Homo sapiens: one gene and its partners. The protein of the gene in region 1 purifies or fractionates together with the protein of each later gene. This does not show direct contact. Each region holds a gene or a part of one and is shown on either strand. Other genes may lie near its edges. The genes, in order: FBLIM1, KIF18A and DCLK1.

Region 1 (3,657 bases):
AGGGCTGAGAGGATACTGGGGTGATCTCATGGGGCCAGCATGGGCTTCCAGGTAGAAACCAAGAGAGTGAGGACCCCTCTTCCCATCCCCACCCCAGCTCATGTTAACAATGATGGGCTTTGTAGTTCGGCATCCATTTAATTTGTATTGCTTTAGCCTTTTTCCCTTTATACCTAAATTCTATTTAAAATGTTAGTCTGCAGTTTGCTATGATAGCAAAAATGTCTTGAATTTTTTCTCACTATTTTATTTTCTGAACACCTAATGCCCTCACACAGTGCAAAATAAACAGCATGAGTGGGGACACAGTGAGAAGCCTGCAACCTGCCCCATCCCCCTACCACCCGGTTTCCTTCCAGATGGGTGTCCTCTGTCATTGAGCTCTCATGTATCCTGCCAAAGACACTATGCACATACGAGCAAATACAAATATGTGTCCACCTGCTCCCTCCCCCCATTTTTCCATAAGTAGCAAACTAGGCTCTTCTGCTGTTCACTTTCTTTCCTTCGTACATCTCAGAGCTGGTCACACATCAGAATATAAAGTGGCTCCTGGCTGAGCGTGGTGGCTCACGCCTATAATCCCAGCATTTTGGGAGGCTGAGGCAGGTGGATCACCTGAGGTCAGGAGTTCGAGATCCGCCTGGCCAACATGGTGAAATGCTGTCTCTACTAAAAATACGAAAGTTAGCTGGGTGTGGTGGTGTGTGCCTGTAATCCCAGCTACTCGGGAGGCTGAGGCAGGAGAATCTCTTGAACCCAGGAGGCGGAGGTTGCAGTGAGCTGAGATTGCGCCACTGCTCTCCAGCCTGGGTGACAGAGTGAGCTTCCGTCTCAAAAAAATAAAAAAATAAAATAAAATAAATAAACAAAGTGGCTCCTGGCTGGGTGTAGTGGTTCATGCCTGTAATCCCAGCACTTTGGGAGGTCAAGGCAGCCAACAATCCCTTTGTCCTGAAACTGCTGTCCAGAATTCCTTATTTATTTATGTTATTTATTTTTATTTTTATTTTTTTAGACAGAGTCTTGCTCTGTCACCAGGCTAGAGTGCAGTGGCGCGATCTTGGCTCATTGCAACCTCCACCTCCTGGGTTTAAGCGAGTCTCCTGCCTCAGTCTCCTGAGTACTGGGACTACAGGCGCCCGCTACCACGCCCAGCTAATTTTTGTATTTTTAGTAGAGACAGGGTTTCACCATGTTGGCCAGATGGTCTCGATCTCTTGACCTTGTGATCCGCCCACCTCGGCATCCCAAAGTGCTGAGATTACAGGTGTGAGCCACCGCGCCGGGCTCTTTATTTTTTTTAATTTTTATTGTTTTTCCTGAAACAGAGCCTCACTCTGTTACCCATGCTGGAGTGCAATGGCACAGTCTCGGCTCACTATAACCTCTGCCTCCTAGGTTCAAGTGATTCTCCTGCCTCAGCCCCATGAGTAGCTGGGACTACGGGGGCATGCCACTATGCCCGGCTAATTTTTGTATTTTTAGTAGAGATGGGGTTTCACCATGTTGGCCAGGCTGGTCTTGAACTCCTGTCCTCAAGTGATCCGCTCACCTTGGCCTCCCAAAGTGCTGGCATTACAGGTGTGAGCCACCATGCCTGACTCAGATTCCTTTTTAATGCTCCTCATGACCCTCTGTATTTGTCATTTGAGGAATTTGCAGGGTTTAAGACAGAGCCTCGGGTATCCTGAGCATGTTCTGGGTGGTGCCTGGGTACAGTCCTCACAGGCTGGGCTGGTGATGGCCTGTGTCTCCCCTACCCCAGACATCTGTGCCTTCTGCCACAAGACCGTGTCCCCCCGAGAGCTGGCTGTGGAGGCCATGAAGAGGCAGTACCATGCCCAGTGCTTCACGTGCCGCACCTGCCGCCGCCAGCTGGCTGGGCAGAGCTTCTACCAGAAGGATGGGCGACCCCTCTGCGAACCCTGCTACCAGGTAACCCCTGCAGCAGACCTCTGGGTGCCAGGCAGTGAGCTGAGCACTTAGAATATGTTGCACCATTTCATTCCCCACACAGTCCTGGGAAGTAGGCACTATTGACCCCTTTCACAGATGAGGAAACTGAGGCTCAGAAAGAAGGAGCCCAGTGAAGGCGATTGGTTTCCTAGGGCTGCCTGTAAGAGATCACCACAACCTTCGTGGCTTCCAGCAGTACACGTTTATTCTGTCCCAGTTCGGGAGATCAAAAGTCCAAAATCAGCTTCACTGGGCCAAAACCAAGGTGGTGTGCTGTCTGGAGGCTTGAGGGAGAACCCACATCTCTGCCTTTTGCAATTTCTTTTTTTCTTCTTCTTCTTCTTTTTTTTTGCGGTGGGGGACGGAGTCTCACTCTATCGCCCAGGCTGGAGTGCAGTGGCACGATGTCAGCTCACTGCAACCTCGGCCACCCAGGTTCAAGGGATTCTCCTGCCTCAGCCTCCCGAGTAGCTGGGATTACAGGCACCTGACACCACACCCGGCTAATTTTTGTATTTTTGGTAGAGATGGGGTTTCACCATCTTGGCCAGGCTGGTCTTGAACTCCTGACCTCGTGAGCCACCCACCTCGACCTCCCAAAGTGCTGGGATTACAGGCATGAGCCACTGCGCCCAGCCTGTTTTTTTTTGTTTTTTTTTTTTTTTAAGATGGAGGCTCATTCTGTCACCCCAGCTGGAGTGCAGTCGTACAATCTCAGATCACTGCAACCTCTGCTTCCCGGGTTGAAGCAATTCCCATGTCTCAGCCTCCTGAGTAGCTGGGACTACAGGTGCCTGCCACCATGCCCAACTAATTTTTGTATTTTTAGTAGAGATGGGATTTCACCACTTTGGCCAGGCTGGTCTCAAACTCCTGACCTCAAGGAATCCACCCCCTCGGCCTCACAAAGTGCTGGGATTACAGGTGTGAGCCACCGCACCTGGCCCCTTTTGCAGTTTATGAAGCTGCATTCTCCTTGACTCCTTCCTCTGCTTCAAAGCCAGCAGTGTAGCATCCCACTTCAGCGGCCCTATTGTCACCTCTGTGTCAAGTTACAGGGACACGCGATGGCATTTAGGACCCACCTGGATAATCAGGATAATCTCCCCCATCTTAAGATCCTTAGCTCATCCCATCTGAAAGCCTCTTTTGCCGGGCAAGGTAACATTCGGGGTCCAGAGATAAGGACTGGATATCTTTGGGGGCATCTCTTAGCTACCACACGAGGTCACACGAGATGGCCAAGGAGCTGGGATTCTACTCCACACCCATCTGGCTCTGGAGCCTGCCATCAGTCTTGCCACTATCTCCCCTAGAGTAGAGCCACAGGGTTCCAATGTTTGATCTCACGGGAATCTGTGTTGCTTCCGGGTACCAAGTGCAATCTGGGAGAGCCAGCTGGGATGCCAGCACACTGGAATTTCTAACTCTTGGATGGTTTGTGGTGGCATGTTGAGTGTGGTGACCACCCACAGCCGCATCCCCTGGGGATGTGTAGGCCACTCTTTGTGCTTATGAATGAGGAACACCTGGAAATCAGCATTTTGAATCAGTGTCTCAAGTGATTCTCATGCATATAGAAGTTTGAAAACGGCTGATTTGAAGGGTTAGAGTATTTGGAGCTGAGACTCTCCAGAAGAATCCAAACAATCCAATCCCAGGCTCACCACCAGTGAGGCACTGTGGGAAGAGAGAGGA
Region 2 (3,657 bases), on another chromosome or scaffold:
GAGAGTTCTGTAGACGTCTATTAAGTCCGCTTGGTGAGAGTTTTTATCATAAAGGGATGTTGAATTTTATCAAATACTTTTTCAGCATCTATTGAAATGATCATATGGTTTTTGTTCTTCATTCTATTGATACAATGTATCACATTGGTTAATTTGCATATGTTGAACCATCTTGCATCCCTGGGATAAATCCCACTTGGCCATGATGAATGATCTTTCAGGTTTGTTATTGGATTCAGTTTGCTAGTATTTTGTTAAGGATTTGTGCATGTGTTCATCAGGGATATTGGCCTGGAGTTTTCTTGTTTTGATGTGTCCTTGTCTGGTTTTGGTATCAGAGTAATACTGGCCTCATATAATGATTTTGGAAGTATTCCTTCCGCCTCTGTTTTTCAGAATAGTTTGAGTAAGATTGGTATTGGTTCTTTTTTAAATGTTTGGTAAAAATCAGCAGTGAAGCCATCAAATTCCAAGCTTTTCTTTGCTGGGAGACTTTATTATGACTTTGATTTTGTTACTTATTATTCATTTGTTCAGGTTTTGGAATTTTTTCTGAAAGATAGACTGGTAGGAAAATATCCAAACTGATGTGCAGTATGATAAAAATATGGGAAGAAGTGAAAGAGACATGGGACACAATTTTTAAAAGTCTAGAAAATATGTATTTTGTGTCTCAGAAGGGAGTGAGAGAAAGAATAGGGAAAAGTAATATTTGAGATGATGGCTAATACTTATTCAAAACTAACAAAAGACATTAAACCATGGATTTGAGTAGCACTGCAAACCAAAAGCCGGGTTAATATAAAGAGAAACATACCTAGGTATATAGTAGTAAAACAACTAAAAACTAAAGATAAGGAAAAATCTTAAATATATTGAGTTATATGACTAGAAGTTCATGATGCATTCTTTATATCCTATAAATTGAATGCAATGACAAATATACTCAATAAATATAAAATGGATCTGACTTCCTCTACCTCTTTTTCTTTGCTATGTGATTATGGGGAGAAAAGTTTATAGAAGACCTTAAAATGACTCTTTTTAAATGTATTTTCCACCAGGAGCCTGTTATCATTTAAGTAACAGGAAGCGAATTTACAAGTAGCCTACTTATTTGTGCTACATAGAGTATCTTCTCATAAGTGAATTTAATATCTGTCCTTGTCCCTCCTAAACAAAGTATAACAGAGACTTGGAATGTGTAAATTTAAAATTTATGGATTTTTCCTAAATGTCTCATCTATGACATTTAAAATTTTATATTTGCTAAGGTACAAATTTGATTTGTACAATTATTCTGGTTTATATACAGAAGTCTGTCACTTTATGAGTGAGCCTAGCTAACCACAATCATCTGTTTCGTCTACTTTTATCACTAATTTGCATAGTGTCAGTTTTGTCATTTGTTCCATTAATTAATTTTAGTGAGTTTTCTTGTCCTTCACTGGTAGTATGTTGTGTTTACTAAGATGTCACAAATGTTTATAGATAAGAATAATTTTTAAATATGAACTTAGCTATTATAAAATCAAATAGTTTTTCAGGAAATGTCCAGGTATGTGAATTGTGTATTTGGAGTGATTTTAGATAAGTTAAAGGGCTTCCACATGAACAACTAATATTGTGAAATAATATTAAAGGACATGTAAAGAAAGTAACTTGATTTCTTATAGCCTATTAATTGTTCTATTACATTCCCTCTGGTACCAGTAATTAGATCCTGCCATTAACTAAGGTTAAAAGAGATTAATGCTAGAAATGTACATGATTACTTTTTTTAATCTTCTTTTTCCCCAATTAAAGTTACATGCGCTTCAGAGTAATAAACTGTGGTATTTTCCATTTAGCAGCTTTATATACATATTTAGTTGTGTATATATTCTAATATAGTTTTTAAAATAAAGAAGGGGAAGCTCTCTATATATGTATTTCATTTATTTTGCATAAAATGGCATTAGAGTTTGAAAGCACTGGATATTCCAAAACCTACCCAACAGATTTGTTTAAATAATTGAGTATATTAGATTTTTAATCTTAACAATTTATTTAATATTTCTCTAGCACACTATTTTACTAAATTGATTAGCCTATCAAATATTTAAATATAATGCATACATAATGTTAGCTTTTACTTCTCAATTATATTAATCAGAGTTTTGGATTGTTTGTTTTGTATTTGTTTGGTTGATTGGTTTTTTGTTTGTCCACAATCTTCTGAGCACCCCAAAGCAGTTTCATATTTGCCATACACTTTTATTTTGTTTTGAAAGATGTCTAATTATTTCAACTAGAAATTATTTCAGATAAAATAGTAGAAGAGGTATTATGTTGAGTAGAAACATTCTACCTATATAAGGGAGCAAAAGGTTAATTCTTAACTTTATTTATAGTTATGGGAATATGTTTTGTGCACAACTGGAAGTGTCTTTGGATTTTTCAGTATAGCCTTTAACATAATTTGAACTTGCGCTCATCAGTTTTAAGTCTTTGTAGTTTATGACCTACAACATAAATGTTAAACATTTCATCAGTGGACTATTTAACTAAATCGTAAACATGTTTGGGTATATTTTACTTTTATATAAATACGCAATTTATTAGGGTTGGATTTGATTTCTAGAAATATGAGTTCTAATCAAATGGCTTTATTCAAAAGCCTAATTTTCAAGAAAGAACATGCTATGAGTAAAAAGTAGGGTCCTGGAACTAGCCATAATGCATAATCGTACTATGAAATAATAAAGACAACTTTGGGATAAATTTAAGAAAAAACAATGTTTTATCAAAAGTAACTAATAATATTGATCTTTATATTTGAAAAAATAAAATCACCAAATGATCAAAAAAGAATTTCTGCCTTGGACAGCTGATATATACAAAAGTGTGTTTAATATGCAAAACAGAATCATAGTAATTTATCACCATTTAAGAAGTGGGGACTACTGTAGTTGATATAATATTTGTGCATACAAATTTGTGATTTTATCTTCTTAAACTGTGTCATTTTCATTACTTCCACTGAGTAGTCACCCCTTATTCAAGTTTTGCTTTCTGTGGTTTCAGTTACCCATGGTCAACCGCAGTTCAAAAACAGGCGATTGTAGAACAATAAGATATTTTAATAGAGAGCGAGACCACATTCACATAACCTTATAATAATTATAATTATAATTGCTCTATTTTATTATTATTGTTAATCTCTTACTGTGCCTAATTTATAATTTAAACTTTATCATAGATATGTGTAGGAGAATACATAGTATATATCCGGTTTGATACTATCCTCGGTTGCAGGCATCCACTGGCGATCTTAGAAGATATCCCCCCCGTCGATAAGGGGGATTACTATATAGTATCTTTATTAGCCAGAATTTCCCTAAGCTTAGGTTGTTTGAATCAGCGTGGAAGGATGTTCTTTTTCCACCCAACCCCCCCCAATCCTACCTGTTAAAAATTGATCCTCTTTAGGACTAGGAAGGATTGCTGTTTTTCAGGACCCAGATCAAATTCATTGCATCCACAAAATTTCCATTATTCTTTCTTACTCTACACTCAAGAATCTATAGCTCCTTGTATTATGGAAACCTTGGCACTATATTTTTACTTTACCTTATATTATTTCATGTATTTATCTTATTTTTTTCTCATCTCCAC
Region 3 (3,657 bases), on another chromosome or scaffold:
TAGCACAGTATCATCTGTTACTGGAGTCTCACATCCTTCTCTAAGATTCTCATTCCAGTCTTTAAATCTGATTATCCAGCAGAGGAGCCTCACATTTACAGCTCAGATTAAACACATATTTCTTCTGATCATTGTTGCTTGAACCAAACCAGCAACGCCTTCTCAGTGTAACTGGAGAACTTTCTTATGCTTTTAAACATTTTCAGGGTGCTTTATCTAAGAAGATATTTTTAAAAAGTGTTTATTTTCTCTTTTAACAAACTCACTCCATGTTGCTATGTTCTTTAAAACTGCTCCCTCTTCTAATTTAATATATTTTTAAAGTTTTTGTTGAAATGTAAACTGCTCTCTGTATCTTTGTTTTGCTTTTAGTTATTAGCTTAGTATAGAAACTTATAAATAATCAGACAATTGCATATCTTCAGTTAGCACAGAATTCTGACAGAGGCTAGCTTTGCCAGCTCAGTTACATGCTGTGTGTCTCACTGGGGAGTGTTAGGGCATTCTCACATTGACATGGACCCAACGTGGTGTCCACTGGTAACTGTTCAATATAAGACCTGCTTACCGATTTCTAGTAATTTTGTTTTTGAATTTTTCTTTCAGGCTTACTGCACGATTAGGGTATGTAGCCTCAGGTCATTTTCACTCACATAGCAGGTTTGTATTTGAGATCACTTTGATCTCTATCTTCTAATTTGATCTTCAGAAAAACCTAATGAGGTTTTGTTTTATAGATAAATAAACTACCACCCAGAAATCTGAGGGACTTGTCCAAAGTCACATGCTTGGAGAGGCCAGGTCTTGAGCCCGAATTTCCAGTTCTCTCTTCCCACTATCATGTGCAGGTCATCACTCCATGAAAACTCCCAAAACACTGCTGTTTCTATAGTACCCAAATATGCCTTTCTCAGGATTTAAGAAAATATCAAAAATACATATAAGTTTTTGATATTTACTTAAATCCTGAGGAAGGCATAGCTGAGACAAGTCATGATCTGCCAGGTGAATAGAAATGGGGTTGGTTAAACTTGCACTATTCATACAACTTCTAGTGAGGCATAATGTGTATGTATACACATTAGAGAATATTTTAAGAACATCTGCAAAACAAGTGTTCAGTAACATGTATAACTGCTCTTTTTAACTTTTGAAGGCCTGCTTCAGTTATTTTTATGTGACTACTTATTCTTTGGCCTTGGATGCTTGCACTGTGAATTTAAAAATAATACAAGGACTTAGATAAAAGTCAATGGGCTGTGTTAGATTAGGCCTCGGTCATTTTACCTACAATTATGAAGGTCTTTCAGCATTTTTACCTATTCCTAGTTACAAAAACTTATTAACACAGAAAAAAAGCCATTACAAAATCTTTAATTTCAAAAGGCTTTGACCTAACTTTATGAAATATGTATTTAGAATTCGTCATTTTACAATTTGTTGTCTCTTGGTTCATGTTTTTCTTTTTTGTGTGTGTGATCTACATCTACTTAATAGTCTGATTATTTTCATTAAAAGATTTCCTGCTAAGGAGTCACTTTTAATAAACATTTACTTATATTTATTTTAGAGCCCATTTTTGAAGCTGTAGTTTGTATGTTGAACACTTCTAAAACCTCTTACTTATGAACAAGTATGAATTGACCTTATAGTATGTGTGGATCACTGTGATTGGCACTATATAGATGAGAGAAAGGAAGGGTGATTATTTGCTTGCTTTTGGAACTTTACTGGGCTTTACAAAATCTTTAGCATCAACTCTCATCAAATTCGTAAATTATATGACTATTTTAAGATGCTGTATTCTGATTCATTCTTAGTGTTTAAATTATCTCAGGTAGCAAATGGAGGTACTTCCAATTTTGAAATTTTCTGCAGATTTAAGTATCTCTAATTCCCAAAGAATATTTTCTATTTTAAATTCACTTTCACACTTCTCTAAGGTCTTTTCAAGTAGATCAGCATTTCTATCACCGACCTTAAGATGAGGAAATGGAGGAATAATGTTTTGTTTTGTTTTTCCAGGATGTGGATCTGTTGCTGACAGTGCCAGATTAGCAATCAGAAATCTTTCTTTTTCCCTAATTATTAATCACACTTCCATTGTTTGAAAAGTCAGGGCTAGCTCTTGCCCCTAAGCAGAAAAGGCAAAAGAGAGGATAAGTAGGAAAAAAGAAATGGGCATATTTTAGTATAAATTTAAATATATTTCTCTCTTCCTTAGGAGAGAGTTATGTATGTGGCTCCATAGAGCCCTTCAAGAAACTGGAGTACACCAAGAATGTGAACCCCAACTGGTCGGTGAACGTCAAGACCACCTCGGCTTCTCGGGCAGTGTCTTCACTGGCCACTGCCAAAGGAAGCCCTTCAGAGGTGCGAGAGAATAAGGATTTCATTCGGCCCAAGCTGGTCACCATCATCAGAAGTGGCGTGAAGCCACGGAAAGCTGTCAGGATTCTGCTGAACAAGAAAACGGCTCATTCCTTTGAGCAGGTCCTCACCGATATCACCGATGCCATCAAGCTGGACTCGGGAGTGGTGAAACGCCTGTACACGTTGGATGGGAAACAGGTAAGAGACATATTGTGATGTGACTTTGACTTTAAGGCAAGAACCAGGGAGTCGGAGGGTGTACGTGGCTAAAGCATACATTTTGCTCAAGTTGTTAAAGGGCCTGGGTCACTTGATCAACAAATATGTACTTGCTGGCCCTAGAACAGTCAGAAGTTTGAGTTGAGCAGGATTATTCATAGGAATAAAGTAAGAAAAAAATGCATATCTTTGAAGATTAAATAATTACTCAGTGATTTCTACTTGTTCATTTATTATTTGCTTAACATAATGATTCTTTTCTGTCATCTGTTTTCAGTTTTCTCATAGATCTTATAGCCTGAAGAATGAATGACTGAGGTGTGAAAGTAAACTCTGACCAGTAGGGAAAATTCTAACTTATTTCTTTGACCTAAATATTTTATGATTTTAAGTCTTTGTAGTGTTCGCTAGTGAGATTTACTTACATTTTATAGATTTTAAAATATGTATCTAAGAAATGACATATTTCCATCTGGATAGCTTTAAAGGCATATTTCTAGAATAGTACGCATCTTGTATTTTTCAGTGTTAAAATGAAAGGGAGGTTTTTCAGCTACAGAATGAACATCAGTTGACTTGGATGGGTGGTCATTTTAATGTGAGTTGGTCAGATGAACCCAAAGGAAGCATCACCTTTTATTGTCTTGGGTGGACTATTTTTGTACAGGTTTGACAGAACCTTGATGGTGAGTTGAATTAAAAAACATTGATTAGGGCCGGGCACGGTGGCTCACGCCTGTAATCCCAGCACTTTGGGAGGCCGAGGCAGGCGGATCACGAGGTCAGGAGATCGAGACCATCCTGGCTAACAGGGTGAAACCCCGTCTCTACTCAAAATAAAAAAAAAAAATTACCTGGGTGTGGTGGTGGGCGCCTGTAGTCCCAGCTACTCAGGGGGCTGAGGCAGGAGAATGGCGTGAACCCGGGAGGCGGAGCTTGCAGTGAGCCGAGATCGCACCACTGCACTCCAGCCTGGGTGACAGAACAAGATTCCGTCTCAAAAAAAAAAAAAAAAAAAAATTGATTATATGTACAGCATGATTTGCTAGTCATTCAGAGTTTACC

The links.
Region 2: the proteins of FBLIM1 (region 1) and KIF18A purify together in Homo sapiens (affinity purification with mass spectrometry; one large-scale study listed by BioGRID and IntAct). This does not show direct contact.
Region 3: the proteins of FBLIM1 (region 1) and DCLK1 purify together in Homo sapiens (affinity purification with mass spectrometry; one large-scale study listed by BioGRID and IntAct). This does not show direct contact.

What each region holds. Positions count from the first base shown.
Region 1 is NC_000001.11:15,768,641-15,772,297, forward strand, and holds part of FBLIM1 (filamin-binding LIM protein 1), read left to right. Parts: intron 1-1,768; coding exon 1,769-1,938; intron 1,939-3,657. UniProt on the Homo sapiens protein: Serves as an anchoring site for cell-ECM adhesion proteins and filamin-containing actin filaments. Is implicated in cell shape modulation (spreading) and motility.
Region 2 is NC_000011.10:28,024,545-28,028,201, reverse strand, and holds part of KIF18A (kinesin-like protein KIF18A), read left to right. Parts: intron 1-3,657.
Region 3 is NC_000013.11:36,110,783-36,114,439, reverse strand, and holds part of DCLK1 (serine/threonine-protein kinase DCLK1), read left to right. Parts: intron 1-2,224; coding exon 2,225-2,571; intron 2,572-3,657.